Linked DNA regions of Homo sapiens: regions 1, 2, 4 and 5 are each linked to region 3. The links come from fine-mapping of genetic effects on gene expression. A gene starts in region 3. Each other region holds a variant in brackets. All regions are shown on one strand. Distances are from middle to middle.

Evidence for each region. PIP is the estimated chance that this variant, and not a neighbour inherited with it, causes the effect. A credible set is the group of variants that fine-mapping cannot tell apart.
Region 1: its variant is the best candidate, but not a certain one, in a credible set for the expression of ZWINT in hippocampus (GTEx, PIP 0.79).
Region 2: its variant is the best candidate, but not a certain one, in a credible set for the expression of ZWINT in fibroblasts (GTEx, PIP 0.54).
Region 4: its variant is the best candidate, but not a certain one, in a credible set for the expression of ZWINT in prefrontal cortex (ROSMAP, PIP 0.69).
Region 5: its variant is the best candidate, but not a certain one, in a credible set for the expression of ZWINT in esophagus muscle (GTEx, PIP 0.84).

The regions. Positions count from the first base shown.
Region 1 is chr10:56,398,903-56,405,432 of GRCh38, reverse strand. No RefSeq gene overlaps it. Among named protein-coding and RNA genes, the nearest start is that of ZWINT, 41 kb to the right of the region's middle. The variant T/C (reference allele first, on the strand shown) is at 3,142.
Region 2 is chr10:56,272,991-56,279,520 of GRCh38, reverse strand. No RefSeq gene overlaps it. Among named protein-coding and RNA genes, the nearest start is that of ZWINT, 85 kb to the left of the region's middle. The variant A/T (reference allele first, on the strand shown) is at 3,470.
Region 3 is chr10:56,357,593-56,364,122 of GRCh38, reverse strand. It overlaps ZWINT (ZW10 interacting kinetochore protein), which reads left to right and starts at 2,864. Exons shown (of 9, transcript NM_007057.4): 1 at 2,864-2,927; 2 at 3,740-3,830; 3 at 3,982-4,105; 4 at 4,270-4,436; 5 at 4,591-4,647; 6 at 5,176-5,318; 7 at 5,399-5,567; 8 at 5,664-5,746; 9 at 5,938-6,530. The coding sequence starts at 2,887. The coding sequence ends at 5,705. LOC124902546 (a long non-coding RNA gene) reads right to left here and starts at 2,664. Exons shown (of 2, transcript XR_007062372.1): 1 at 2,267-2,664; 2 at 1-98. RefSeq lists a silencer at 2,597-2,806 and enhancers at 2,897-3,066, 2,415-3,154, 3,894-4,634, 3,780-4,979.
Region 4 is chr10:55,780,012-55,786,541 of GRCh38, reverse strand. No RefSeq gene overlaps it. Among named protein-coding and RNA genes, the nearest start is that of ZWINT, 580 kb to the left of the region's middle. The variant C/T (reference allele first, on the strand shown) is at 3,029.
Region 5 is chr10:56,279,878-56,286,407 of GRCh38, reverse strand. No RefSeq gene overlaps it. Among named protein-coding and RNA genes, the nearest start is that of ZWINT, 78 kb to the left of the region's middle. The variant C/T (reference allele first, on the strand shown) is at 3,942.

The DNA of each region.
Region 1 (6,530 bases), 41 kb before region 3:
TCTTTTTCTTTTTCTTTCTTTCTTCTTTTTTTGAGACAGGGCATAATTCTGTCACCCAGGCTAGAGTGCAGTGATATGATCATATCTTACTGCAACCTCAACCTCCAAGGCCCAAGGGATCCTCCCACTTCAGCCTCTCCAGTGCCACCATACCCAAAAAAAGTTTGTATTTTTTATAATGACAGGATCTCATTAAATTGACCAAGATAGTCTCAAACTCCTGGCCTCAAGCAATCCCCTCACTGTGGCCTCCCAAACTGCTGGGATTACAGGAATGGGCCATCACACCCGCTCTAACTTCCTAAATTTAACAATACGACATGAATAAGCTACCAATGAGTTTGCTCTAAAATATTCAAGAAAACAACTTACAAATCTAAAAAAAAAAAATACATGAATATGTTTTGGAGACATTTTCTTTAATAAATTATTATTTCACTTCAATTTTATTCTAAATATGTTTTCAGAAATATTTGTGTTGGAAACACAAGAAAACAGGGTAACAGATTACCTGCTACACCCTCTAGAAGGAACAGAACCCTGCCAACCTATTTTAGACTTCTGACCTCTGGAACTGTAGGAGAGGAAAATCTGCATTGTTTTAAGTCACTGTGCCTGTGGTAATTTGTTATAGTGGCAATAGGAAATGAATATAATATCCACTGAAAAACATCTGGAAATAATGAACAATTCATTTCTAATGTGTCCACTAGCCACTTACATTCTGGAATCTGAACACAATTTTCTATCAAAAGAAATCAATCAGGTGTCCTTGGATAAATGGCTGATTGAGGTATGGGTTAGAAAGTATACCAGATGTTGCTATAACATCTTATAGAACCAGATAGCAAAAGAGATATGAGACGACTAGTGTCACGTTAAAAAGTCCTAGAGACCAATTTGAAGAGTTTCTCCTTGGGTACAGTTGAGATAATTTGCCCATCAATAAGAATGATAACTGCAATAGATTGACACTTATCAAACATATTTAAATTTATGAGTACATAATGATATCAAAAAGCCAACACCAACCAAACCAACCAACCAAATCAAAACAAAAAATAATGGTCACAATTAGAGAATAATAGGTAACTAATTCATTATATTAAATACTGGGTAATAAAAGAAAAATCAAAGAGATTATCTCTCCTTACTATAAAAACTGTACCTCAATTCAAAAAATAATTGATAAGAAAAAAATTTATACAATTATGCCAATTACTTATTTATGAGAAATGGTAGAAATAGAGTATCGCCATAATCCAACTTCAAACAACATATTGGCTCCTAGAAATATCATATATGGCTGTCAACAGCACGTAACAGAGACAACCAGATGTTATGTGTTTTCTGATGGAAATGTATACCATCTAAGAAATATTATTTCCAAAAAATTGACCAATCTCTTTAAAAATATTTTTTTCAGAAATATAGGAGACAATGTAACGTTAAGCACTTATATAAGGTTATATGTAATACACAAATTCTGAGATCTCTATTGACAAGTTACTTGAAATTAAGAAACTTTTTTCAGATATTAGATTATTTCTATGTATATTTAAAACATTCTTGTCTTTTAGAAGATACATGCTACATACTTAACATCATTATAAATTAAATGATAAAAATGGAAGAGATTTGCTTCAAAATGAATCAGTACAGAAGTATAGATGCATTAAGATTGGCCCCAGTTGACAATTCTTAAGGTAGATGAAACAACTTTTTTATGAGTTTGAAGTTTACCCTGATGAAAAAGTTTTAAAAATTACAATTATTTTTATAATTTCTATAAAAAACTGAGAGAATCAAATAAGATAAAGTGTATCTTCTAAATAGTCATACATGCCATTTTAAAGTTAGGCACTATTGCAAGCAGCAAATGAATAATTTTGGAGACACAATGAGGAGACAGATATATCCTAAGAGTATACACCTGTATATATCCCAAGAGTACACACCTATACAGCAATGACCAAACAATGAAGGTTTTAAAACTGTACAACTGATTGTTTATTTTAAAACTTGGCATGATCTTGATGTGACTTGTATAAAATCAGTGATTTCACTATTTTGCTGGTGATTCAAACTAGTAGTTTGACTAAATTTCTTGGATGCTTTTGTATAACCTGTCCTAAAACTAAAGAGCAAACTTCACTAATACATACAAAGAAAAAAAAATGACAACTCACAGGCAATCCTTGGAATAATGGTGTGAGATGAACTGAAGTAGATTTATTTCTTCCTGGAATGATGAATGAGGTTTAGCTGCTATTGAAACCTTTGAAGGCTGTTAACTTGAATTATAGATACTTCTAAAGACAACCTCTTCTGAGGCCTTTCACACATTTCACCATGTGAAACACATGAATCTGATCGCATAACTCTCTTAGCTCTGTTGTGCCTAAAGATCCATAATGAATTGTATTCTCCAGCCCCTGCTCTGAAACAGAGCATTATAGTTTTAATATTCTTTACTCTTATATTTATTTCCAGGACCTTTAAGTCCCTGAAATTTAGTTTTTGCTCAGTAAACATTTATTGAATATTTGATAAATATTTTCTCATTCTTTTGGTTTCAATTTATGTACTTGGTATTTTTATGAGAAGTGATTAGAGGAAATAAAGAAAGGTATTATAAAGTGTTCATAGCTCATAATTCAAATATCATGACATGCAGGGTGACTCTTTGTATAATATAAGAGTCCTGTTGCTGCTTGCAATGACATGAAATGTTTGTGTTCCCCCAAAATTTATAATGTTGAAACATAATCATGAATGTGATGATATTAGGAGGTGGGGCCTTTGGGAGATAATTAGATCACGAGGATGGACTGTGTTTCAATGCCCTTATGAAAGAGGTCCCATAAAGCTTCCTTGCCCATTCCACCGTTTAAGGACACAGACAGAAGGCACTATTTATGAACCAGGGAACAGGTCATCACCAGACACTGAATCTGTTGGTGCCTTGATCTTGGACCTCCCATCCAACACAACTGTAAGAAATACATTTCTCATGTTTATAAATTGCCTAGTTTATGGTATTTTGTTAGAGCAACCCAAATAGACTGAGACATATGGCATTGCTGTAAGACAATTATGACTAACATTATGGGTTAAAACAACACAAATTTATGTTATGGT[T/C]CTGGAGGTCAGAAGTCCTAACTAGGTTTCAAAGAGATAAAATCAAGGTGCTAACAAGGTTGTGTTCCTTCTGAGGCTTTAAAGAAAAATACATGTCCTTTCTTCTTCCCGCTTCTAGAGGCTGCCTGCATTCCTTGGCTCATGATCCCATATTCCATGCGCAATGTCAGCAGTATAGCACCTTCAAATATCTGACCTCTGCTTTCATCTTTACATTTTCTCTCTGACTATGACCTTCCTGTTCTTCTCTTATAAGAACCCTTACAATTACATTAGACTCACATGGATAATCCAGAATAATCTCTCATTTCAAGATCCTTAATGTAATCACACATGAAAAATCCTTTTGCCATGTAAGGAAACATATTCACAGGCTCTGGGTTAAGACTTGAACATCTCTGGGAGGCTATTATTATCTCTATGGTACATTTAAGCAATGCAAATAATGAATTGCTTATAGTGTAATCTCTACTTCTGTTGGGAGAATTGGGGAATAATTATGTCAGGGTTGTTTTAAAAAATGCTTCACTAAGAGTATCAAAGTACTCTAAGCACCTCACTTACGCTTAAGATTACTGTCTATGAAAGCTTGACCAAGCACCATTGGATTACACAGAAACACAAACAGAGGCAGAAAAACTCTATGTAAAGCTAATTTAATTATATATATAAAGAAATTATACATATTTTATATATATGCTTTCATATATATATGTATATATAATATGTCTTTACCCTCTCACTCTACTACATATGACTTACCCCACTACCCATATGCCTTTACCCTATCACTCCACTACAAGCATAATATACTAAAGGATGAGGAAAGTTGGTTAACAGATATAATTTTCTTTAAATGTATTTTCCACTTAATGTGTTAAAAAATCAAGTTTTTTATAAATAAAATGTCATATCTATACAATAATTAGAGTACAGGTCACCTGCCAATTTTATTGAACTCTAAATCCAGAAAGATAATCTCAGCTATCACAAATTGTTTTGGACAAATAAAACAAAGTGTCTTTTTATGTTTATTCCTTTAGGCAAAGTAAATGTTAACATCAGAAAATACAGTGAATGGCAAATCAATATAACATAGCTTAGAGAAGAACTGCAAAGCTACAATTCAGGCAGATAATGTTTCAGTGAAATGCCTTAATTCCTGCCCGCGGTTGAAACTCACCATTTCTAAAATCATACTGATGGCCTCTAACTGATAGAGTTCAAAAGAATATTAGAGAAAAGGAACATTTATTTTGCTTTAGAATTCTAACACATGTAATTAATAACCTATTGGGTGTGTCTCACTACGTTAGTGACAGGATCATTCATACACCACACCTCGGTGACATGCAATTTACCCATGTAACAAACCTGAACATGTACCACCAAAACTAAAATAAAAGGAGAAAAAAAAACACAAAAAATAATAGCTGGCACTGAGTTTTCTTTTTACTTTTCTTTGAGATGGAGTCTCACTCTGTTACCCAAGCTGGAGTACAGTGGCACGATCTCAACTCACTGCAACCTCCACCTCCCTGTTCAAGCGATTCTCCTGCCTCAGCCTCCCGGGTAGCTGGGATTACAGGTGCGCACGACCACGCCTGGATAATTTTTTTTGTGTATGTTTTGTGGAGACAGGGTTTTGCCCTGTTGGCCAGGGTGGTCTCGAACTCCTGACCTCAGGTGATCTGCCTGCCTCGGCCTCCTAAAGTGCTGGGATTACAGGCGTGAGCCACCACGCCCGGCCTGACACTGAGTTTTGTATTACTAAATAAGTAAACAAAAAAATCATTTAAATCAAATTGTTCTAACCATTCTATTTTACTTTCAAGGAAAATGATTGACCCTCCTTTTTGCTATGCCTTCCACCTATGATTTAACAGAACGATCTGAAGTTGTGACACATAAATTGAACTCTTCCTGTCAGTTATTAAACACAGGTAATATTGGGCAGGTTGCAACTTCTCTGAGACACAGTTCCCTCCAAGAAAGCAAATGAACTCATGGCCACCCCCATGCTTGAAATTATAGAAAAACTAGAAGAGAACAGTGTGAGGAGAAAGTAAAATTATATTAAATCAATTAAAGAAAACCACTGGATGGCCTAAAAATTAATAGGAAAGCAATACCTAGACATTAAAACTGCACTACTACAGTTTGGATTTAATAACCTGGTAGACGAAATCATATTTGAAAAATCTCCAGTATCTATATGGAGTTTAGAGGTTTAAATATACTTTTTTTATGCATTTCTAAAGTTGATCCCCACATAAGCTTGCTAAATACACACCCAAAAAATACAATTTACTTTTTCTACAGGTGAGGAAATGAAACTATATTTCACATTTTTCATTTAGTTCATTTATTTATATATTTATGTAATAAGCACAAATTTATTTGGCACCTTTTATGTTCCAGGCAATGTGCTGGATGTTAGGTATTTAGCAGTAAGCAAAAGAGCCAAGACATTTGCCTTCACTGGATTTATTTTACATTCTAAAAAGAGACATCGACAAAACAAATGTATGCAGACAAATAAATGTGTAGTCATAATTTGCAAAAAGTGTTATGAATGAAAAAACTAAGTTATATTACTCAGGGTTCTCCATATATATATATATATATATATATATATATACACACACACACACACACACACATACACACACATATATATATACACACAGAGACAATATATATACACACACATATAAACACACACATATATACACAGAAACAATATATGTATATATACACATATATATGTATGTATACACACATATGTGCACATACACACATTCACTGGGAGAGAAAGAGAGAGATTATCAAGAATTGGCTCATGTAGTAATGAAGGCTGAGAAGTCTCACAATCTGCCCTCTATAAGCTGTAGACCCAGGAGAGCAAGCCGGTAGCACAGTTCCTGTCCAAGTACAAGTGAGGATGATGTCTCAACTCATAAACAATCAGGCAGAGAGAATGAATTCTCCCTTATCTCATCTTTTGTTCCATTTAGGCCTGCAACAGATTGGATAAGTAAAGCCCACTCACATTGGAGAAGACAATCTGCTTCATTCAGTCTACTGATTCAAATGTTAATCTCATCCAGAATCACCCTCACAATCACACCCAGAATAATGTTTAACCAAATATTTGGGCATCATGTAGCCCATTCAGGTTGACATATAAAATGAACCATCCTATAGATGCTATAAAAATGGCTAGAAAGGCCCTTTTTTGAAGGTCTTGAGACTGGAAAGATAAAAAGGAACAAGTGAGAAATGAGAAGAGTGTTCCTGGCAGGGGAAACATGTTTGAACCTCCTATTTGCTAGCATAGCTCAGCACTATTAGTGGCATTGCATGGCTGTGTTTGTGCAGGGAGGGTA
Region 2 (6,530 bases), 85 kb after region 3:
ATTAAAATATGTCTACTCTATTGTTGATTTTGTAAAATTAGGAGTTGTATTACATTGTCAGCATAAAATTTAATTACTAAGTTTAGTTTGAAATTGCAAAACCAATGACATTTGAGAGACATTTAGGAAAATGAGAAATGGCAATATTAATTATTTTACAAAAATTTAAAGTTTGTTTATATTTTAAAAAATGTCTTCTATCATAGAGGTTCTACTCTTGGCTAGTTAATTTCCCCCATTCTCTACTACTTCATTGCCTTCGATCACAGATTTTTTTCACAAAAATGTAGGTGTGAAAATTTATCAAATTCTCATAGTGTTGGGAAAGTACTGCTTATAATTCAGTACACTACAAAGCAAAGCATTCTTTTCTTATGTATTTATTTTCCACTGGTTATCCTTGAACAGGAAAATATTGCTTGTTTGCCTGCTAAAATTTATATTAAAAAGTCACATAATATTTACTACCTTTCTGAGGTCCTCTAAAAATTCTGCAGTTTGTAATTATTAGGAACTGAAATCTGCATAAATCCTTGCCCTATATTCTATTGATGAGTAACCAGTAGTTATTGCATGTTTTCAACATTAGAAAAAATATTGCTTTGGGCCATATTATTAATAAAATATATTTATTTAATAAATTAAATGGAATTAATCAGATGAAAAATAGAATTCATGCCAAACTGCTTTCTGTCTCTATTCATTGTTAAACTCTGTTTTTAAAGCAATGCCTTTGTTGTTTTCTCTTCCCTCTCTCTAGCCCTCTATTCCCTCATCACTACCTCCCTCCCTTCCCTCTATTTTTGCTTTTTAACACATTATTAACTACTGTTTGTGAGGGCATAATAAAGCAGGAACTTTCATGCTTCTTATGGAGAGCAAAATGTGAATGTGAATTCAAAATTTCAGAGTTCCTAAGCGCTGATGCGGTGAGTATATTTCTGGAAATGCACCTGTATTAATTTCCTAGGGGTACCATAACAAAATACCACAGAATGAATGGCTTAAAATCTAAACATTTATTTTCTCATGTTTCTTGAGGCTAGTACAGTCTCAAAGTATCAGAAGTTTTGGTTTCTTCTTTAATATATGAATTTTGGAAAACATAATTTTGTCCATAATAACATCAAAATAATCAGAGAAGTTGGGTACCTTTTATGTAAACCAAATATATTGCAGCATTATTATTTAAAGTGGAAACTTGACAATGAACTAAGTGCCTAGAAATATATGAGTTACAGAAATTATGTAATATCCATATAAATTTAAAAATTGTAATTAAAGTAAGATTCAGAAACTGTTTTACTGACATGTAATACAATAGATTGTTAAGTGAAAATAGCCATTTACAAAAATATATATTCAATGTTTTCCAGATTTGTGTCATCTAAACAAATAAATATGCCAACAAAATCTATCATTTAAAATTATTACTTCTAGTTGAGATATTTATGAACATTTTTTCTCTTTACCCTTTTGTCATTTGAAAACATTGTACCACTTAAAATTAAAATATGCCTTAAAATATGCCTTCACTTTCATATTTCAAATTAATAAGAACATCTAAAAACTTTATGTATGCCCAAATGTAGAAACATTATTTTAATAAACTATATAAATTGGACAATTCCATAAAATATTTACTCCTTCAAAACTGAACTCATTTAATCACTACGTAAAAGTAAAAAATCAATATGAAGAAATGTAACTCATCTGACACTTCTAGGCTAAATTAAAACTTTTAAATGCCAAGACTAATTTTGAAGCTGTGGTCATTGTGTATGTGACTTTCATTATCTTCACACCGCACCTCTTTTAAGAGATAATGTCAGCAGAAAGTTAAAGGTGCTAGTGAAAGACCACCAGAGAACAGGATGGTCAAGTTAAAAGCAAGGCTGTCCTTACCATTTTCCAGTTAATAGAAAACATATTACAGTCTCAAACTGGTCGTAAGAAAGTAGAACAGGAATGTGAGACAGGGCATAGGGTAGAACTTACTCAACATTTCTTAGTTCTTGGGAAGAGGGACTAAGAATAAATAAGTCCCAAAGAAATGTATTCTGTGGTTCTGGGTTTATAAAATAGGAGTGATTTAGGCCAGGAGCTTGTTAATTCTTTTTTACATAGGGGGTCAAAAATATATTAATAATTTAAATTGTACATGAAGAATTATTATTTATTGCATCAAAATTGCCTTCAGCTGAAGAGAAGGGCAGAACTTAGGGCAAGAAACATGCCTTTAATTTCTAGACTCTCTTTTCTTGTACTAGTGTGTATTGCTTGCTATTGATCCTGAAACAACAATAAAAGTAATGATTTCCAGACCACACAATGCTTTATGAGTCACAAATATACAGAGTAGACATAAAGTCTGAGAACATAGATTATATTCTTTTTATTTTTACAGAGTGAAGTTTTTCTGGGCAATAATTTGTATATTTACCTTTTTCCCTCTGAATTGATAGACAAATTGTAGTAGTGTTCTTATAAAAATAAAGTGACCTCATGAACAATGGGAAGAAAATCAATACATTGCTTCAAAGGGACAGGGACTTAAAATCAAAGCTCTCTATTGAAAGATATAAAATTCCATAAATGCTTTAGAAATTTCTCTTAGTGTTGTACTGCCTGATATTGCTATTGATTTTCTAAAAAAGAGCTTCAGAAACCCAAGTTACTTGAAGTATACTTCTCCAATTTTCCTAAGCTCATGAAAGATTTCTTCTGTGTTCTTTAAACTGAAACCTAGAATTATCGCTTGTTGACCTCCTGCTCTATACTTATACCCTTCTTGTGAAGGGGACCTGACCCTCTTGACAAAAGCCAGAAGCAGAGACAAGAACTTAAGCAATAAAACTTCTCCAATATTTGCTCTGATGCTTTGACAATTCACAAAGACCAAGTACTGAGTAATGTCTATATTTTTTTCAGACCATATTCCTTTTCATATAATAAGATGGACAAAAGGAATAATTGTGCTAAAAAAGACCCAAAAGACTTTGTTTTCTTTATATTGTAAGCAGTAAATCTTTATTACATCCAAAAATATCTTTTATATATAATTTTTTATTATACTTTCAGTTCTAGGGTACATGTGCACAACATGCAGGTTTGTTATATGTGTATACATGTGCCATGTTGGTGTGCTGCACCCATTAACTCATCATTTACATTAGGTATATCTCCTAATGCTATCCCTCCCTCCTCTCCCTACCCCACAACAGGCCCCGGTGTGTGATCTTCCCCTTCCTGTGTCCAAGTGTTCTCACTGTTTATTATTATTATTTATTACATCCAAAAATATCTTAAGAAAACAAACTCAAAGCAATATTTTATTTACAAGCTGTGTTCATCCTATTGGGATTACATTTTTTGTTTCTCACAATTTCCTCCCAAAATCCTGTCTAAACTTTTGATAAAAGATGACATTTTTATTTTACATATGATCAGTCAATAATTATGACTGTTT[A/T]GTTAATTGCCCTGATACTTATTTTATTCTATTATCATTTATATGGGCAAAGGACATTTTATCCAAAAGAACCCTTGTTCTAATATGTGTTTAGCTAATTTCAATCTTGAGGCCACAAGTATATAATTTAATTTGGTTTTATCTTCCAATAACCAATGTAACATTTTCTCCTTTTAATGCTAATTTGAATAACTCAGACAAATACTTAAAATATCAATAAATACTAATCTTTACCTGTATTTCTTACCCCTTCCAAAGGTTATTTAAAAAATAAAATTGTAATGAATAAAAGTATATATGTAAAGGTGCATTTCATTATATATTCCCATTATTTTATCTCTAATAATATGAATTACCTCATTTATATATCTAACATCCCATCAGAACTACCTCCAGGTAAAATGAGATGCAAGGAAAGGTTCATCATTTGTGAACACATGCCAGTTTGCCAATTCTGTACCTCTTTTTTTATACCTTCTTTTTACTGAGTCAAACTATAAAAATATTTTCTTCCTGCAGAAGTCCCACTGTTAAAAGAAAATATTAATATCTCTCATTTTCTCTGAAATAACACTCCCTTATCTAAATCAATATGCATTCCTTTCTTCTTACAATAATATGTTTGCTCAGAATATTTTACTGTCAGTTTTCATCTCCCCTTTCCAAAATTTAGCTAGTTTTCAGTTGATTTATTCAAGTGGACTTAAAGGCTAAGGTAATAATGACTACTTTATTAACATCTTACTTCCATCAACCATGTCCACATTTTTACTTGGGACAGTTGAGGAGTCTTTTAATCCAAAAGCTGAACACTTGAATGATAAGAATTGAAACCATGAACTTCAAACAAAATGGCAGGCTTGATTACCATGGGCACTTTTTTCCATTCCTAACAGAAAATTCTTGATATAATATAAAACTTCTAATTTTTTAAATAACATTTTTATTTTAGAATAGCTAGAGATTCACAGAAAAATTACAAACCCTGGCATCCACTCACCTTTTGTCCATTGTTACAGTTTTGCCTTCTCCAGTAAGTTAAACCATTGTAATTATCCAATATGTAGCCCTTTCACACTGACTTTTTCATATAGAAATATGCATTTAAAATTCAAAAATGTCTTTTATGGATTCATATTTCACTTCATTTTATCACTTAATAATATCAGCTCTACAGATGCATCATAAATTTTTTTATTCATTCACTTATTGAAGGAAATCTTGTTAGCTTCCTCATTTGCCCGTATGAGTAAAGCTGCTATAAGTATTTACATGCAGCTTTTGTTGTAAATGTAAGTTTTCAAATCAGTTGGTGAAAATCATGGAGCATGCAGCCATAAAAAAGAATGAGTTCATGTCCTTTGCAGGGACATGGATGAAGCTGGAAACCATCATCCTCAGCAAACGAGCACAGGAACGGAAAACCAAACACCACAGGTTCTCACTCACAAGTGGGAGTTGAACTATGAGAACACATGGACACAGGGAGGGGAACATCACACACTGGGGCTGTCGGGGGCCGGGGGAAAGGAGAAGGAGAGCATTAGGACAAATATCTAATGCATGCAGGGCTTAAAACCTGGATGATGGGTTGATAGGTGCAGCAAACCAACGTGGCACATGTATACCTTTGTAACAAATCTGTGCATTCAGCACATGTATCTCAGAATTTAAAGTAAAATTTAAAAAAATCATGGAGCGTGATTGCTGGATTATCTGAGAAGACTATGTCTAGCTTTGTAAGACATTAACAAATGGTTTTCAAAAATGGCTGTACCATTTTGCATTGCCATCAGCAATTAATTGAAATTTCTTTTGGTCCACATTCTTGCTAGTAATTGGTATTGTCAATTTTAAAATGTTCATTCTAATAGGCATAGTGGTAGCTTATTGTTTTGACTTGAGATTCCTTAATTATAGATGATGTTGAGCTTAATTTTTTTTTTTTTTTTTTTTTTTTTGAGACAGAGTCGTCTCGCTGTGTCGCCCAGGCTGGAGAGCAGTGGCGCGATCTCGGCTCACTGCAAGCTACGCTTCCCGGGTTCACGCCGTTCTCCTGGCGCAGCCTCCCGAGTAGCTGGGACTACAGGAGCCCGCAACCACGCCCGGCTAATTTTTTGTATTTTTAGTAGAGACGGGGTTTCACCATGTTGGCCAGGATTGTCTCGATATCCTGACCTCGTGATCCGCCCGCCTTGGCCTCTCAAAGTGCTGGGATTACAGGCGTGAGCCACCGCGCCCGGCCTGAGCTTAATTTTTTATATCCCTATTTGCAATACAAAAATCTTCATTGCTGAGGTCAGATCTCTTGCCCATTAACATTTTTTCTTATTGTGTGTTTCAATAGGTGTATATTTTGTATTCAAGTCTTTTACCAGATGTAAGTATAGAAAACACTTTTTTCTCAGTCTGTGGCTTGTCTTTCAATCTCTTAACAGTGTATTTTCAAAGTATAATTTTAAAAAATTTTATAAAGTCTACTTCCTATTTTTTTCTTTCATGAATCACACTTTTGGTGCTATATAATTAAACTCACAGATACATAAATTTTCTCCCATGTTTTCTTTTACAAGTTATAGCTTTGCATCTTAACATTTGGATCTACAATACATTTTGAGTTAATTTTTGCAAAACGTGTAAGGCTTGTGTCTAGGTTTATTTTTCTGCAGACAGAGGTTCAATTGTTCTAGCACCAATTGTTCGAAAGACTCATTTTTATTGAATTGCCTTTGCTTCATTGTCAGGTATTCTTTATATATTGTGTGGGTCATGTCTGGGCTTCATGGTAAGTCCTTAAATCAGATGAGTCCTCCATCCTTGTTCTTGCTCATCAGTATTGTGTTGGCTCGTCGAGTCTTTTACTTTTCCGTGTAAACTTTAGAATCAGATTGTAACAACAAACGCAAGTCCCTGAGCTGATTCCTCAAAGAGCTACCAGACAGGTCAAAACACAACCAAAGTTCCTTGAGACCAAGGTCTGTATTGCCCCCTGCAGCAGTGGCAAGCCACACCAAGAACCGGGGCTGCCATTCTCACAGCCACTGCAGAGATGTGGAGTGTG
Region 3 (6,530 bases):
CCTCGTGATCTGCCCACCTCGGCCTTCCAAAGTGCTGGGATTATAGGTGTGAGCCACTGCATCCAGCCTAGTTAGTCTTCATTTTTGAAAGCTGTTTGCTGGAAACAGAAATCAAGGTTGACTTTTTTTTATTCTTACAGTACTTGAAAGATGTTACTCTACTGTCTTGCTTGCATTGTTCCAAGAAGAAATTTCCCGTAATCCTTATCTTTGTTTCTATGTAACATGTGCCCCAACACCCCTTATTACTTTAGAATTTTTTATCAATGGTTTTGAGTTATGCAATTATGGTATAACTTGATGTCATTTTCTTAATATTTCTTGTGTTTGAGATTTGTGAAGCTTCTTGAATATATGAATTTATATTTTTCATCACATTTCAAATTTTTTGGTCTTTATTACTTGTTTTCTTGTCCTCTCCCCTTGCCTCTCTGAGACTCCACTTTCAAGTATATTATTAGGCTGTTAGAAGTTGTCTCACAGCTCACCATTGATTTGTTCATGTTACTTTATTTTCATTTTTTAATGTTGTGATTGATTTTGGGTAGTTTCTCTAGAGCTGTGTTTCACTTTCATTCTGCAATGTGTAACATACTATATTAATACCATCTAATTCCATCTATCACATTGTAGTGTTCACCTCTACAAGTTTGATTTAGGTCTTTATTACAAGCTTTGTGTCTTTGATTAACTTTTTTAACAGCTTTTATGACAGCAGTAAAGTGTAAATTTAGCGGTTTTCTGTATAGAATTGTACAACCTTCACCATAACCGAAGTGTAGAACATTTTATTTATCCCTTTAAAAGAAACACTATATCCATTTGCAGTCCCTCCCCATACTCTCTCAACCTCTCATTCCCACCAATCCCCAGCCCTGGACAAGCACTATATAAATTTACTTTCTGTTGCTATAGATTTGTCAAATCTAGACATTTCACATAAATGAAATAATATATTATGTGGTCTTTTGTAATTAGCTTCTTTCACTTAGTATATTTTCAAGGTTCATATTTTAGCATGTAGTAACCATTATTTAGCATGTAATAAAGTTCTCTTTACTACTGATTAATACTTCATTGAATGAAAGTATGCATTTTCACTCACCAGCTAATGGGCCTTTGGGTTGTTTTTACCTTTCAGCTTTTGTGAATAATGCTGCTATAGAGGTTTGTGTACTTTTGTGTCCCCATGTTTTTATTTGTCTTGGATATATAACTAGGAATGAAATTGTGACTCATATGGTAACCCTACGTTCAAAGCCTATGCACCAGTTTACATTTCCATCAACATGAGAATTCCACTTTCTTTACATCCTTAGCACCACTTACCTTTTTCATTATAGTTCTGATATCTTTTTGAAGATATGGGATATAGTTACAATAACTGTTTTAATGTCCTTGCCTGTTGATTCTAACATTACTTCAGTTCTGATCAGCAATTGATTTTTCTCCTCATTATGTGTTTTTTTTTTTCTTTTTGCAAGCTTGGTAATTTTTCTTTGTATGACATATGTAAATTGCACCTTTGGTGAACATTTTTCTATTTCTATAAATACTGCTGAAGTTTGGTCTTGTCATCTGTCATGGTTTGTTAAGTTTGATCCATTTGGGTCTTACTTTTAAGAGTTAGATGGCACTACAGCACTGATCAGCTAGGACTAATTACTGCCTACTAAATAATTAGTAAACAACTATCAAATCAAGACTTTTTTGTGTGTACTCTGTCCAGTGTCCTACGGACTATGAAGTTTTCCAGCCTGGTTAGTGGAAATAGAGACTATTTCTGACCCTCTGTAATGTCCATATATATATATTTATATATATATATATATGTATTTTTTTTTTTTTGTGAGACGGAGTCTCGCACTGTCACCAGGGCTGTAGTGCTGTGGCGCAATTTCGGCTAACTGCAACCTCAGCCTCCCTGGTTCAAGCAATTCTCCTGCCTCAGCCTCCCGAATAGCTGGGATTACAAGCGCCCACCACCACGCCCAACTAATTTTTTTTGTACTTTTAGTAGAGACGGGGGTTTCACCATGTTGGCCAGGCTGGTCTCAAACTCCTGACCTCGTAATTCACCTGCCTCAGACTCACAAAGTGCTGGGATTACAGACGTGAGCCACCGCGACCGGCCATGTCCTGGTATCTTTAAAAATCTTTTAGCTAGTTTCTTGAGACACATACTGCTCAGTACTCAGCTGAATGAATACCAAGTTCTCTCTCAGCAGTTATCTTTCTCCTGTACTCTGCAAAGAACATTACCTACCTTGGTCTCCCCAGAATATCTGTTCTATTTTGCCAACGCAGGCAATCGGCTGGGCTCTGCTTGAGTTCACTCTCCTGCATCGCATCTATAAAATACTAATATCTTTGAAAGCAGCTCGCTTTTTGAGCGCAGATCATTTGCTTCCTGTATCTCCCGGATCACTATTCTTTACTGATTCCCAGCGTCTTAGAAACAGCCCCACTGTTTTTCGGGGTTTTGTTTTTTTTTTTCTACAGCAGTAGTGAATATTTTAAATAAAGTGTCAATGCTGTAAGTTTCCCTTAAAACGCAAACTCAAGGAAATGCTTTCCCTTTTTCGAGTAGAGAAAGAACTTCCACAGGCGCGCGGTCGAGCTCAAGCCCACTTATAGTCTCTGGCACCGCGTAAGGACTAGCGCGCAGGCGCAGAGCCCGTGCGCGCCTAGCCATAACCGCGCTTGCGCCAAGCAGCGAGGCCCGCCAACGAGCGAATCCGCGCCTGCCAATTAGAGCGCACAATGGTCCTTGATGCCCGCCCACTAACCTCTGCAGCCAATCGCCTGCCCCGGCGCGAAGTCGACTGTGACTTCAAAGTAATCTTAGGGATTGTGGGAAGGCAGCTGAACTCGGCGCCTGGAAAGATGGAGGCAGCGGAGACAGAGGCGGAAGCTGCAGCCCTAGAGTAAGTGTTTGCGGCTAAGTGGCAGCTGGGGCCGGGCCTGGGAGGACCTTGTGGGCCCCTATGTGTAATGATTGGTGCCCTCGACCCTGTACAGCTGTTGAGGTTCGACCCTGCCGTGAAGTGATCCTCACCGCAGTCCCGTCTTAGGTTCCTGAGGTGTCTGTTGCCTGCTCCAGGAGTACAGCCTTTGGGGGACCGTTCGCCGCTCCCCACATCCACATAATCCACAGGATGTGCTCTAGGAGACGGTTTCACTTCTGTCTTCTTGTCCCAACACGACACATTCCCAGTCACTTCTCATCCCCATCCCTGCCCCTTCGTAGATTGCTCCAGTCCCTAATAATGAAAAACCCTAGAGTAGACCGAGGCATCCAGCCCTCTGCCCTGAGTCCTTTCTCAGCTATTCCAAGACTCTGCCCCAAGGCTGGTGCTCAGCGCCAGGAGGGATCCCAAGGCCCAGCATTCTTCCCCTTCCTTGCATATCTCCCTGGCTTCCTTCACATCTTGACTCAAATGATTTCTCTTCAGTGAGACACTCCCTATTTAAAATTTCAGCTCTTTTCTCAAACTCCTTATCCACTAGCCCTGCTGATTTTCCTTTTGGCACGTATTACCACCGTGTGCCCTCCATGCACGCCATTCCTGGTTGCAGGCTGTGGACCCTTCAGGCCCTTGTGTAAACTCTGGTCAAGGCAAGACTCTCAATACTATATATACTGATATACACATCCACATTTGTTTGTGTACACACACGAACTGTAGAACTAGCACCACAAGAAACTGCAATTTCCTGTGTTTCCTTGCCCCTCCAGGGTCCTGGCTGAGGTGGCAGGCATCTTGGAACCTGTAGGCCTGCAGGAGGAGGCAGAACTGCCAGCCAAGATCCTGGTTGAGTTTGTGGTGGTATGTACAAGATGAGAGCGAGCCTTTCAGAAGCCAGGGTCTGGTCCTGGCTCCTCTTACTGAGATACAGGGCAGCACTGGCAGAGAGCAGACTTAAGGAAACCTGTAAGGAGGTAAGGATGTTCCCTGTCTCTGCCCTCCCTCTGAGCAGGACTCTCAGAAGAAAGACAAGCTGCTCTGCAGCCAGCTTCAGGTAGCGGATTTCCTGCAGAACATCCTGGCTCAGGAGGACACTGCTAAGGGTCTCGACCCCTTGGCTTCTGAAGACACGAGCCGTGAGTAGGCAGGGGATTGTAGTAGCAGCTGACCTGAGTGGGGAAGGAAGGAGGATTTCAGTTAGGTCTCCCATTTGGCTGATGGGAAGGAGGCCCAGTGTTGCAGGGAGGCAGGCTAGCAGGCCACCCTCACTCATGTACTCATTCCTGGTGGCTCATCTCAGGACAGAAGGCAATTGCAGCTAAGGAACAATGGAAAGAGCTGAAGGCCACCTACAGGGAGCACGTAGAGGCCATCAAAATTGGCCTCACCAAGGCCCTGACTCAGATGGAGGAAGCCCAGAGGAAACGGACACAACTCCGGGAAGCCTTTGAGCAGCTCCAGGCCAAGGTACACCCAGGGGTCTTGAGTACAGGGAGGGAAGGGCAGTTAGAAAGGAAGAGGGAAAGAGTGAGCAAGCTGAGTTGTGCCAGCTTGCAATCTCCCAAAATTCTAGCCAGAAAAAATAGACTTCTCTTGGTCTTTCTCCCTTGCTTATCTGTAGAAACAAATGGCCATGGAGAAACGCAGAGCAGTCCAGAACCAGTGGCAGCTACAACAGGTAGGTTCGTCCCCCTAGGAGAATATCCCTTCCCACCACCATGCCATTGTATCGGCTGTGTCCCCTGTCTAGAAAACCGTTTTGCTTCCTCCTTTGAGGCACTATAATATAAATACCAACATGGGCTTGAATCTCAGTGTCACCACTTACCACTGCATGATCTTGGGCAGGTCACCTAACTTTCTGTTTCTTTATTTAAAATGAAGGCAATAATACCACCTACTCTAGAGAGTTATTAAGATGATTAAATGATCATTACAGCAAGGACTTTAAAATAGTACCTGGCACATAGCAAGTTAAATAAGTGTTATCACCTTTGTGCCCCTTCCCCGCAAGAATGCCTCACCCTAGAACAGCTCATTCTGATCTTTCCTTTTCTCTAGGCCCCTACTCCACCCTGAAGTGAATAGAGTCCCTCTTTTCATCATTGAGCCTGAGCCCTGAGCTGGGTGTAGGCTGGAGGGGTTGGAGGGAGTTTCTAAGACTTCAACATCTGATGCATAATGTCTGCATGCTCACTCCTGGCAGGAGAAGCATCTGCAGCATCTGGCGGAGGTTTCTGCAGAGGTGAGGGAGCGTAAGACAGGGACTCAGCAGGAGCTTGACAGGGTGTTTCAGAAACTTGGAAACCTGAAGCAGCAGGCAGAACAGGAGCGGGACAAGCTGCAGAGGTAAGTTCGGGAGCATGGGCTGCAGATTCAAAATGGTCCAGCTGAGATTCCTTTCCTTCACACTTACCTCCTCTTTGTAGGTATCAGACCTTCCTCCAGCTTCTGTATACCCTGCAGGGTAAGCTGTTGTTCCCTGAGGCTGAGGCTGAGGCAGAGAATCTTCCAGATGATAAACCCCAGCAGCCGACTCGACCCCAGGAGCAGAGTACAGGAGACACCATGGGGAGAGACCCTGGTGTGTCCTTCAAGGTAAATGAGAGATGGAACAGGTGGGCATGGGCTGGCAGGTGGAGACAGAAGCTGGGAGATTGGCCTTACCCACTGTCTATACTGTATTTCTCCAAGGCTGTTGGTCTACAACCTGCTGGAGATGTAAATTTGCCATGACTTCCTGGAGGACAGCAGCATGGAGAAAGATCCTAGAAAAGGTCAGACCCAACTCAGGCCTTGGTGTCCCTGGACTGCAAGTGTGGAAGGAGGGAAAGCCTGGTTTACCTCTCTCTGCATCTGAGCTCTGCTACCCATGGAGCAGATGGATGGTGGGAACAGGAAAGAGCTTATGTTACACCTCATTCCCATGCTTAGCCCACCCAGAGCTAACCCCTGTCTTCTTCCCCAGGCCTCTGACTTCCCTCACCTCCCAACCATCATTACAGGAAAGACTGTGAACTCCTGAGTTCAGCTTGATTTCTGACTACATCCCAGCAAGCTCTGGCATCTGTGGATTAAAATCCCTGGATCTCTCTCAGTTGTGTATTTGTTCATCTTCATATGCTGGCAGGAACAACTATTAATACAGATACTCAGAAGCCAATAACATGACAGGAGCTGGGACTGGTTTGAACACAGGGTGTGCAGATGGGGAGGGGGTACTGGCCTTGGGCCTCCTATGATGCAGACATGGTGAATTTAATTCAAGGAGGAGGAGAATGTTTTAGGCAGGTGGTTATATGTGGGAAGATAATTTTATTCATGGATCCAAATGTTTGTTGAGTCCTTTCTTTGTGCTAAGGTTCTTGCGGTGAACCAGAATTATAACAGTGAGCTCATCTGACTGTTTTAGGATGTACAGCCTAGTGTTAACATTCTTGGTATCTTTTTGTGCCTTATCTAAAACATTTCTCGATCACTGGTTTCAGATGTTCATTTATTATATTCTTTTCAAAGATTCAGAGATTGGCTTTTGTCATCCACTATTGTATGTTTTGTTTC
Region 4 (6,530 bases), 580 kb after region 3:
ACATATAAAGATACTAAGATATTTTTATGATAAATAAATTTGTCACCAGCATGTATTATGTATTTTCTATATAGTTAACATTTTAATAGGCTTTTGAGTTTATAGGAAAATATGGAAGGAATAAATATCTTTTTTTCAATGACATTCTTAGTTAAAAAAAATAAAACCAGAGAAAATGAATTAAAATATACCACTCATTATAAATAAATGTATATCAACTAATCGTAAGAGGGCCTGAGTTAAAACAGTTCTGAGTAGGATACTGATAAATTGGGAAGGCTTTCTTGAAGAAAAAATGTTTTAAATAATCTAATAACAACAGTACAGGTTAGAGCAGACAAAAAGAAAATTAAGATAAAGTCAAGGGAATTTAAAAAGGTAGAAAGATAATGATAAGACAATATTGTTTGGAGCTCTGAGGGTTACATAGGTTAGTAGGAGCCCTGCAACAATTTGAACAAATACAGTTAATGAAATGAATGTAATACAGCTGCTCACAATGGCTGTACAGAGAACTGTGTGTGAGCTACACAAAAGACACTACAGGTTAACAGCAGGTCAGTGACATGAAGAAGGAACTTTTCTAATATAATAATAATAATTGTTAGCATTTACTGAAGGCATAGTATTCTGGTGACATATATCTATTAGCAATTTAATTATCATGAGAAGCATACAAGTAAGACACTATTATTATTTTTATTTTATGAAAGATGAAACTCAGGCAGAGAACATTTTAATCATTACTATATGGATCCATTGTGTGATTGTAGGTATTCAAAGATAGGCACTCTGAAATCAGAGCTATGCATATAACTATCATACCATATTGTTTCTCTAGATAATTGTTATAAATGTTAGTATAATTTTGAAAAAAAAATAGGTCAAGTATCATTTCAGTGAATATAAATGAAAGGTAAAAGAAGTCATTTTCAATGGAGGACCAGCTTTAGGTAAGAGAAAAAAAGAGAAAAAGAAACCCTATAAGATAAAGGAAAAAAAGAAAGAAAGAAACAAAAAGCAAACCCCAAACCTGATGTCCTTCTTTAGCCCACTGTGATAGTATCACCACCACAAAATTGCCACTGCTTATTGGCACAACAAATAATGGCTAGTATTAATCCATTCATACACAGAGCTGGATATAGATAAAGTATAAATAAGAAAAAATGTGACAACTATGTGTCAGCTAGACATTTTCTTTAATTACCATCCATTTCATTTCACAACCCTAGATGTATACAAGAAGATCAATAGCTTCAAAAGAAAAAGCATTTTGGAAGGGGATTATTTTGGTTATTCCTGTGCCCCAAAGGGTGGTCTGTTAAACATTTATATTTTGTGAAATAAATCTCTTATGAAACCCCATTAGATAACAAAGCAACTTAACCAAAATAAAGATTGCCACCAATATGACTCCCATCCAGTAATTGGATATATTGTTTAAAATGGGGTAAAACATGATTGTCCTAGTTTACTTAGTCATGATTTTTATCTCATGAATACAATTAGCAATGAGAGTTGAAGATAGTAGAACCACAGTTTTGGTTTCCTTCACTCAACCTTAAGTTGTCTATTTTTTCTGATTATCTAAATAATATAGTTCATCTTTATGATTAGTACATAAATAAAATTTGAGTCTTTCTTGGCATTCATTACTTTACCTTGAAAACCCAGAGTATTTACTTTTTGTGTGGCAAGGGAGGCCTAATGGGGAACCTTGACCTTCATCTCAACTTGATGGTAAAAAGGTGCTCCTTCCTTCCCCTTTTGCTTGCCATGTGTCTGAAAAAGACTAGTATAAAGAATATATAAAGAAATTTCAAAACTTAAGAGTGAACAAAGTCAAATTAGAAAGTGGGCAAAAGACATGAATATACATTTCACTGAAAAGAATATATGTTTAGAAAATCAGAGCATGAAAATATGTCAACATCATTAGCCATTAGGGAAATGAAAAATTAAAACCCCAGTGGGATTTCAATATATACTCAAGATAATAGTTAAATTAAAAATATAATGACAATACTGAGTGCTGGCAAGGCTGCAGGAAACTACGTAACTCCTGCATGGTTGATGGGAATGTAAAATAATAAAGCCATTCTCTTTAACAATCTGATACTTGCTTTAAAAAGCAAACAAACAATTTAACATGCAATGACATTATGACTCAGTAATTTCACTCCTGAGCATTTACAGCGGAGTAATTTTTAAAAACCATGTTAATTCAAAAACTTTACACAAATATTCAGAGCAGCTTTATTTTTAATAATCCCGAACTGGAAACAATCCAGACATTTTTGAAGGAGTAAATAAGTTTAAACAAAATGTATTACATTCATGCAGTGAAGCACTACTTAGCAACAAAAAGAACAAGTTATTGATATAGGCAACAACCTCCATAAATCTTCAGAGAATTATGCTGAGTAAATAAATATAATCAGAAAAGATTATGTGATGTGGAATTTCCCTTATATAACATTACTGAAGTGACAAAATTATGAGAATGGAGGAAAGATTAGTGGTTGTCAAGGGTTAAAGACGAGGTGAAAAAGAGGAAAATGGATGTGGCTAGGAAAGAACAACATGAGGGATTCCATGGTAATGGAAATATTCTGTATGTTACCTATATCAATCTCCATATATTGGTTATGATATTGTACTATCGTTTTGCAAGATGTTACCATTGGGAGAACTGAGATAAGGTTACAAGAGATCTCTCTATATTATTTCTTACAACTGCAAGTAAATCTACAATTATATCAAAATTTAAAGGTTATTTTAAAAAGAGAGTTCTTAAATTAATAATTCATTCTCCCAACTTTAGAAGTTAAAAGGAAGACTAAAGTGAGCACAAAGCAAGAAAAATGAAGAAATAATACAGATTAGAGCAGAAATCAAACAGCAAATGAAGCAAAAAACAATAAAGAAGTTTAATGATCCAAAGTTTGAATCTTTGAAAAGATAAACAAAAGTGAGAAATATTTAGATGATAAATAATAAAAAAGGCTGGGCACAGTGGCTCACA[C/T]CTAAAATCCCAGCACTTTGGGAGGCCGAGGCGGGTGGATCATTTGAGGCCAGGAGTTTGTGACTAGCCTGGCAAACATGGTGAAACCCAGTCTCTACTAAAAATACAAAAATTAGCTGGGCGTGGTGGCGGGTACCTGTAATCCCAGCTACTCGGGAGGCTGAGGCAGGAGAATCGCTTGAACCTGGGAGGTGGAGGTTATAGTGAACCCAGATCCTGCCATTGCACTCCAGACTGGGCAACAACAGCGAAACTCCATCTCAAAAAAGAAAAAAAAAAAAAAAAGAAAGAAAGAAAGAAAAGAAAAAAGAGAGAATGTGTCGATTACCAAAATCAGGAACAAAGGTTACTACTACCAATCCTCCCTCATCCCATCCAAATATATGAATTACAAGGGAAATACTATAAAATGCTTTGTGACCACAAATTATACAACTTACATTTAAGGTATGAAGTCTTAAAAATATATAAATTACTGCAGCTGAAACAAAAATGAATAGAAAATCTGAATAAATATGCAATTAAATTTTAATTAGCAATTAAAAGTCTTATGTAAGGGAATATATAGGACTACATGACTTCACTGGTAAGTTATTTCATGTATTCAACGAAGAAATGATACCCATACTCAGAAAATAGAAAAAGAGAGAAACTTCCCAATTCATGTTATCAGGCCTATATTCAAAAGCAAAAATGAAAAAAGAAAGAAAGGAGGAGAAATTTTTAAAAAGAAAAAAATAAAAATAAAATTACAGATCTATATACCTCACAAATATAGACACAAAAATCTCCAATAAAATATTATCAAACTAAATTCAACCATATATAAAAATGATTACACTCCATGACTAAGTGAAATTAATCCCAGAAATGCAAGATTGTTTTAGTACTTAAAAAGTAACTAATGTAATATACTATGTTATAAAATAAAGAACTAAAATGAAATGATTATCTCAATGATGCAGGAAAAGGATTTGACAGAATCTAACATTAATTAATAAAAAAATAGAATGGAAATTCCTCAACCTGTTAGAGGACATCAACAACAACAACAACAACAACTCAAAACATTACATTTTACGGCATATCTAATGGTGAAAGACTGGATGTTTTCCCCTCAAAATTGGCAACATGCCAAAGATGTCTCTAATGTTCACTCTCATTAATTCTATCCAGTATTGCACTGGAAGTTATAGTCAATACAATGAAGAATATATTGATAAAGCCATCAAGAAATCGAAGTGGCCGGGCGCAATAGCTCAGGCCTGTAATCCCAGTGCCTTAGGAGGTCAAGTCAGGAGGATTACTTGAGTCTAGGAGTTCAGAACCAGCCTGGGCAACAAAGAGAGATCCTCTTCTCTATGAATTTATTATTATTTTTTTAAATTAGCCAGGCATGGTGGCTTTCACCTCTCAGTCCTAGGTACTCAGGAGATTGAGACAGGAGGATTGCTTGAGCCCAGGAGTTTGAGGTTGCAGTGAGCTATGATTGGGAGACACTGCACTACAGTCTGGTAGACAGAGCAAGACAATTTCTCTCTTAAAAAATTTTTTTTAAAAATAATTATATTCACAATACTATAAAAATAAACCCTTGGAAATAAATTTAGCAAAATATGTCTAAGATTTGTATGCTGAAAACTAATAATCTAAGCAAATGGAAAATCATTCTATGCTCATGGGTTGGGAGACCTACTATTGTTTTTCTAGTAAATCTCCCATCATAGATCTATAGATTTAATACTATTGTTACCATACATTAGCCATATTATATGAACATAAATATTTCATTTATGAGCCTCATATCTAATTATTTGTTAATTACATATAAAGTAATTAATATGAATTTTTTGAAAAGCACATTAAAAATGGGTCCCCGAGACCTTGGCTTTCAAGTTCAGATGGAAATATTCAATATGAACTAGAACATTTAGTAATCAAGGTGTCATATTCTGCCTCATTATCTTTTTATTTGGAAAACTATGTTCGACTCCAAGGTATTGAGTTGATAGGGAGAGTTGAGACAGAGATTTCCAGTCTCTGTTTACTTCAGTGTAAGAGAAGTAACCAGTTTAATTGTTTAGAACCTGACATTTATTTAGTCATGTCTTCTTAGTGTTCAGGTTTATTGTCTTCAATGATTGGATACCAATCTGCTTCCTTTTTGACTTTCCTAGACTCAGATTCATTAGATTCTCTATTTGTGTCATTTGGAATGGAAAGACTTTCTCACAGGGTAGAGGTTATTCATTCTCTTTCTTCATTCTCTCTCTCTCTCTCTCTCTCTCTCTCTCTCTCTCTCTTCTCTCTCCACCACAATTTTTGCCAAAAGCAAGTCAGGTTTTTGGTCAAGCTAAGTTTTTACTTCTTGCTTTCCTTCAACTAAGTATGAAATAAATCTATTAAATAATATTTAATTTGGTCTCATATGTGAACCATACTCTCCAACCTAGTATTTCTGCCAAATAACCATGAACTGAAATTTACTTCATAGTTTTGACCTTCATAAATTGTTTGTTTCCCCATTTATCTTCAATTTTTACATATTTTTAAAGTATTGATATCAACTCTGGGGAAAAGAATAAATCTTACACCCTGCGTAACAACAGGTACAATAAAAGAAGTATGTTCCTTAACGTGAGAAGAATGTTAACCCATTTCAATCACAAGTATTTGATTCTTCCCATGAGTAACACTATGCTATGCATTGTGGAGTTTACAGAAGAGTTGAGATATGATCCTGACTTCGTGGTATATAATTTCATTTGATAGGGCAAGTCATATGTGGTAAATAAAGATATAGACGTTACTGATGTACATGAGAGCCTTGTGGGCTGAGTTCCCTTATAGAAGTGGAGTTTGTGCAATCTTGAAAATGGGTAGCATCTGGATAAGAAAAGAGTCAATCAAGTAAGAGAAATGCCCCAAAATTGCTTCTACAATGGTAGAGCAGCTTCCTTCAGAAAAAGCTACATAGACTTTTAAATTTAAAATCATAGCATCTTACAAACAAATATATAAATACCATTTACTTTTATGGTATTTCGGGAAAGTATCTAAGTCAACGTTAAAAATTATATTTCAAATCCTCACATGCATCTCCCTTCACTAATTAAATAATAGTGAACTGTGTTTTGAAATCATCAGATACTTCAAAATTAGTTTGCTTTTCAAATAATGCAACGTAGTAAAACGTGGACTTGCAGAGCTCTTATATTACTGTGGTTCTTCTATGAAAGTAATGTAAAACTATTTAAAATTTTTCCTTAAATTTTTCACAAGTGTCAGGTAAGTACAACACCATAAGCAATATTTGCTGAATTATTACAATGTATTATATGTCTTTTACTTAATATGAGTTTTATATTGAGAACTTTTTTCAAATAATAATTCTCCGAGATGAAGATAAAGTGCATGAAAACTTGAAGTAAAGATGTATTCACCCTACAAGACTTAATAGTGAGACTGTGCAGAACTCAAGATTGCGTTGGCCAAGGGATTA
Region 5 (6,530 bases), 78 kb after region 3:
AAAAATATTACACCCTTTTTAGACATGTATGACAATGATGCCCTGCTATGTTTATTATTATATTTATGACTCATTATTATGTACATATGTAATTTTGTAACAGTAATAAGTTAAGCAATACCCTGAGAGTAATGTGAGCCATACTGATTAATAACATGCTAAGCAATCTCAAATTACATAGGAATTCTTGTGTCAAAGTTATGTAGAACTTTAGTTTCTTGATTTGCTTTAATAAGTTACTTCATACATTTTTCAATTTCTTTGCTGTTGCATTGAGCTATCTCTCTTTAATTTAGTGAAATTTGAAAACTCAAATATTGAAGTTTAAGAACATTGTATGTAAAGTAAAAGCTAGTCAGTATCCTGTGAAACTTCTATGTTTTACTTGGGGAAAAAAAATTCATTTGCATTTTCCCAGAGGATATTGTCATATAGGGTAGAAGTCTTTCTAGTAAAATAATTTCCTAGGTTTTAGAAGAATTACACACATTTAGTGTGTTAGATAGTGGAAATACCAGTATATACTTACAGATAGGCATTTCAATATTATCAATTTATCTTATAAAACCATTTCTTAAAATTGCTCAGCCATATAGCATGAGAATCTAAGCCTGCTGAATATTTATGACAAGATTTTAATTATATATTCAAATAAAAACAGATTCAATGAATTTATCTCCTAGTAATAAAGAATGTTACCTGCACTTTTACTATAGGTGAATACAAGAATTTCTAATTAATTTAAACAATTTTATTATGTTTAGTGTTAGACTAGGGTAAAAAATAATGATACATTATTTAGTAAATGTCATCATTTGCCAATATTTCATTATTTCATTAATATTTTTACAAAATAGTGTTGAAATATTTTTCTTCAAAATATAGCATATAATCCATTAAATAGGAATATATTTGTCTAATATAAAATATTTCAGCAAACATATTTACAGAAAATATTAAAGGAAGTCACATAAAAAGGCACATAAAATATTTCCTTACAATTATTACAGATGATTTAAAAGATATGTGTATAATAATAAATATAGTATATATGTATATATATTTAATCCAGACAACTGTGAAATAATTAATTCTGCTCAGCAATAAATAAGAATAACGTACTGACATAACAAAATAGATGTCTCTCAAGTACATTATTCTGAGTGAAGAATTTCGGATACAAAACACCAAATACAGTTTGATTCATTTTATATAAATTCTAGAAAGGGCAAAAACAAAGTGCTAGAAAGCAGGGGCCATAGGGCAGGGGTAAAGGACTGACAGAAATGACAGAACTCTTTGGGATGATGGAAATGTTCTACACCAATCATATAAATTAGTCAAATTAAACTTGACAAAAAGTCTTTGAACTGAATTTTCACTTCTACATTCAACACATAGTGTAGCAATTAGAAAGCTAAGTGAGATCATATAAATGAATAAACCTTGACATCATATACTACAACAAGTGTATATCCAGTTTCTTTGTCGTATATATTGCCTTAAATAACTGGTATTGATAAACCATACCAGAGTGTACAATGCACATCATACCCAAAACTAAAGCAATACTCAAGTAAAGCAAGAAAGACCTTTTCTTTATGTCATCATCGTATGGAAAGAAATTTAAAGTTTCTGAATTATGCTATTTCCTGAATATGGCAGGTTTTAGTTTTACCGGTGGCACTTTGGGGAAGACTAAAGAGCAGATAGAACTTTTTAAGCAAAGATACTGCAAAATTTTATTTCAAAAAGGGTGTGATACTATGCTATTAAAATAATTTGTTTCCTATTTCATCATGGTTACTTGATTGCTTAAGAATTGACAGATAAAATATACTAGGGCTATCCAGTAATGTAAGCAGATCTCTAATAAACAAATCATACTGGAAAGCAAAGGTTAATGTAAAGCATAAATAAGAAGGCAAAGTAACACAAAATGTCAGTTGGAGTCTAATAATTGTATAAAAGTTATCAAGCAAGTAGGTGCCCATGAATACTTACCATATGTGCTTGCATTGATTAATGGCAAGATAAATAAAACACATACTTTTTAGTCTAAAAAGCAAAAGGCTCTCAAACTTCACAGACTGAATCTCATAAAGCAGTTTTTAAATATTCTAACATAGCTGAAACTATAGGAAAGAAAACATACTATAGAAATTCTGATTACTAAGATAGAAAGATAACCAGCTGGTACTTACAAATCAATGTGAGTATTGAGAAGAGAAGGAGTAAGATTTGCAACAGCCTAATAAATATATCAGCCAGGTAGTCAAAAACAATGAAATATTGATAACACTGCTTCTCAAAAGTTTAACAGATTATTAAACTAAAAACAATAAATAATTTAGGAGTGTATCATTTTCTAAAATGGACTGATCCCTGAAATTGCTTATTGAATAACACAAAATATTTAAACTTGTTACATGAAGCAACTAAATCAACTACCTCCAAAAAATCTGCTTTTTGCATCTTAATTCTATTTCTGTTACAGTTTTTCTAAAATATGCTTTCACATTATGGGTAAAGCAAATTGCAGCAAAACATGTTTTTTTTTTTTTGGTGAGAAGAAAATACAGATAAAAAAATACTCTCAAACAATAAAAGTTCGAACAAAATAATCTCTACTTACGTAAGCATTCCAAAGAAATTGAAGATGTAGAGATCTAAGTAGGTATTTTGGGGAAAGATATATAACACAGGACTTACATTGCTCAATTGTTGAGTATTTTGATAAGTAGAACATTTTGTAATTACCGACAGAGCTGATATGTGGTGCTGAGTCCTTGGAATTAAATATGCCTTTTAGTGCCCAAGCTGATTTTTGGTTGATGTGTAATGTTGAAGTTAAAGGACATACTCTATGTCAATAACCATTAAGATAGTAACAAGATGAGAAAGAAAATCTATACAGTCAATTACTGTAATATAATTTCATTGTTAATGCTAGATTGCCTGAAAAATCATTGAACAAACAACAAGAGACACAGCAAATTTTCTTTATGGCATATGCTATGTGATCTCTTATCTGTTGTAACGGAGTTGTTATACATTATACCTTAATAGAGTTGCTCTTTCTAGAAAATAAAGAAGACAGTCGACAATAACATGACAAAAGCTCAACATCACTGATCATTAGAGAAATGCAAATCAAAACCATAATGAGATACCATCTCACACCAGTCAGAATGACTATTATTAAAAAGTCAAAAAATAACAGATGCTGGTGAGGTTGTGAAGAAAAAGGAATGCTTATGTTGGTGGGAGTGTAAATTAGTTCAGTCATTATGGAAGACTGTGACAGTGTGGTGATTCCTCAAAGACCTAAAGATAGAAATACTGGCCAGGCACCGTGGCTCACACCTGTAATCCAAGCACTTTGGGAGGCCAAGGTGGGTGGATCACCTGAGGTCAGGAGTTCAAGACCAGCCTGGCCAACATGGTGAAACCCTGTCTCAACTAAAAATACAAAAAAATTAGCTGGGCATGGTGGCAGGCGCCTGTAATCTCAGCTACTTTGGGAGGCGGAGGTAGGATAATCGCTTGAACCTGGGAGGCAGAGGTTGCGGTGAGTTGAGATTGCACCATTGCACTCCAGCCTGGGCAACAAGAGCAAAACTCTGTCTCAAACAACAATAACAACAAGAAATACCATTCAACCCAGCAATCTCATTACTGGATATATGCCCAAAGGAATATAAATCATTCTATTGTAAAGACAAATGCACACACATGTTTGTTGCCATACTATTCACAATAGCAAAGACATAGAATTAACCTAAATGTCTATCAATGATACACTGGATAAAGAAAATCTGGTACATATACACAATGGAATGCAAGGCAACCATAAAAAAACAACAAGATCATGTCCTTTGCAGGGATATGGATGGAGCTGGAGGCCATTACCCTTAGCAAGCTAACACAATAACAGAAAA[C/T]CAAGTGCTGCATGTTCTCACTTATAAGTAGGAGCTAAATGATGAGAACACATGGACACGTGGAGGGGAATAACACACTGGGTCCTATCAGAGGGCAGAGGGTGGAAGGACGGAGAGGATCACAAAAAATAACTAATGGATACTAGGCTTAACACCTAGGTGATGAAATAATCTGTAAAACAAACTCCCATGACACAAGTTTGCCTATGTAACAAACCTGCACGTGTACTCCTGAACTTAAAATATAAGTTAGAAAAAAAAAATCTGTAAATGAACAAAAATCTGCCAAACAAATCAGTTACTTGCTCCACAAATTGCTCTCCACCTGTTTTCTGACAAGAATGTCTATTTTCAAAGAAAACTAACATTACTGCTTTAGTAATATTTCATAAGCTAGCTCAAATATGGAAATTGTCATTTTTATGTGAGCATATTAGTTTTCTAGGTATGCTGTAATAAAATACTCCAAATTGAATGACAAAGAAAAACAAAAATTTATTAATATTTTCTCACAGTTCTGGAAATACTTTAATCCTGAAATCAAGGTATCAGCAGGGTCATGGTTTCTCTGAAACCCATAGGTGAGAACTCTCTCATTTCTTTCTGGCCTCTGGTGATTTGCTAGAGATCCTTTGTTTCTTAGCTTGCAGCTTCAGAACTTCAATTTCTGCCTCCTTTGTCACATGGTGTTGTCCCTTTATGTGCTGTGTCCCTGTGTTCCTTCTCATCTTCTTATTAGGGCATCAAACGTATTGCATTAAGTAGTCACCCTACTCCAGTTATATCTCATTTTTACTTAGCTAGTTATATCTGCAATGACCCTACTTCCAAATAAGATTACACTGTGAGGTACTGATGTCTAGAATATCAGTATATTTTTTATCTTTGGAGAAGGACACAATTCAAGTCTAATAGTCAGAATTCTATGGTCATTCATGGCATTCATGGCATTTTTGTGGACATCTTTTACAACAATTCATTAAACACTAGTTTGCATGCTCTATGAAAGTGGACATAGTACTTATTCATTTTTGCATTTCTAGTTCTTAGCATAGTAAGTTCAAAATGCATATTGCTATGTGAATGTAGGACCTGGATTGGGAAACATTCTGAAATGTAAATAAGATGCCTTTTTATTTCCTCTTTTATTACTGCTCTCTTGCCTTTCTATCGTTCATAAACATGAAATACATCATGAAATAAACATGATAGTGTATATAGAATGCTTAGCAAGATGCCTAACAATCAGTAAGCATCTAATAAATAAACCAACTAGTGTGATCATAACTTCACTCTGATTTATTCTTCATACCCTCACTCTAAATCCAAATCTTTCTACTACAATTACTCAGCCAAAGTTTGCTTTCTATTGATAGCAATGTCATATCAAATTATAGGAGATGATAGCAGGTGAAACTAGAATTTAGATATAAGGAATATGCTTTTGCAACATACTAAAAAATATACCACATGAACTAGGTGTCTTTTGAAGATATCACTTTTCCCTGAATTATGATATGTCTCCTGGCTGGTATACTGCTATAGTGCACTAAGAGAGACACATGTACCTCTGTGGTACTTTATGTGATAAATGAAAGTATAAACTACTAGAAGAACACATTTGATAAATCAATTACTTCAAAAGGAGAAATTAAACTAAAGATATTACTAAGTTACGTTTCAACTAATCCCTAAAATATGAGAATACAAGTGAGGTAGTTGTGTTTCTGAACAAAATCACAAAGGTATGAAAGTTTATTGTGCCATTAGGGAAACAGTAATGAACGTAAGGGCCCACATATAGGGTCTGTTAAGGGTAGAGTATGTACAGATACTACTGCTAAAGATAATAGATGCATGTTACACTGATGTCAAATGTTAAACTGAGAATATTCGTTCAAGATTTCAAAGCCTACTTGATGAGATCTGATTTTAGAAAGACAGTTTGTGGGGATAATTTATTTCAGTAGAGGAGAATGTTTGCAGAACTGTCGTAATAGTGCAGCAATAAGGTAAGTAGGGTCAAAACCACAATAATAACAATGGGAGTGAATACAGAACTATAGAACTTAGAGCTATGTTCTAGGCGATGTAAATAGAACAACACAGCTTTAAATGCCTTAGGACCAAAATCTCATTTGATATTAAGTTGGTGCAACAGTAATTGTGGTTTTTGTCACTACTTTTAATAGCAAAAACCGCAATTGCTTTTGCACCAACCTATAATTATTGACATTATCAGTCTGGCCTTTGGCAAATATTGAAGTGTCTATACCTTCTTTGGGGATTTACAATGAAATTTAACAAATAGTGGTTCTGAGAATTTCTTCAAGAAAAAAATGGTTAACTTATTTTTGTCTAGGATTTTCTAAAATTAATTTGGTTTTGAGGTCCTTTTCATGTATCACCATGATGTAAAAATATTTCATGTAAAAATATTTACTAGATGTAGTGTAAGCATAAGCATTATTTTGAGCATAAGAATAAGTATAAGCATATTTTGAGTTAAAGACAGAAAACACAGGTGATGAAATCTATCCTATAACTTCAGGGTATGTATAATTAAAACTAAATGCAGTGATTTAAATC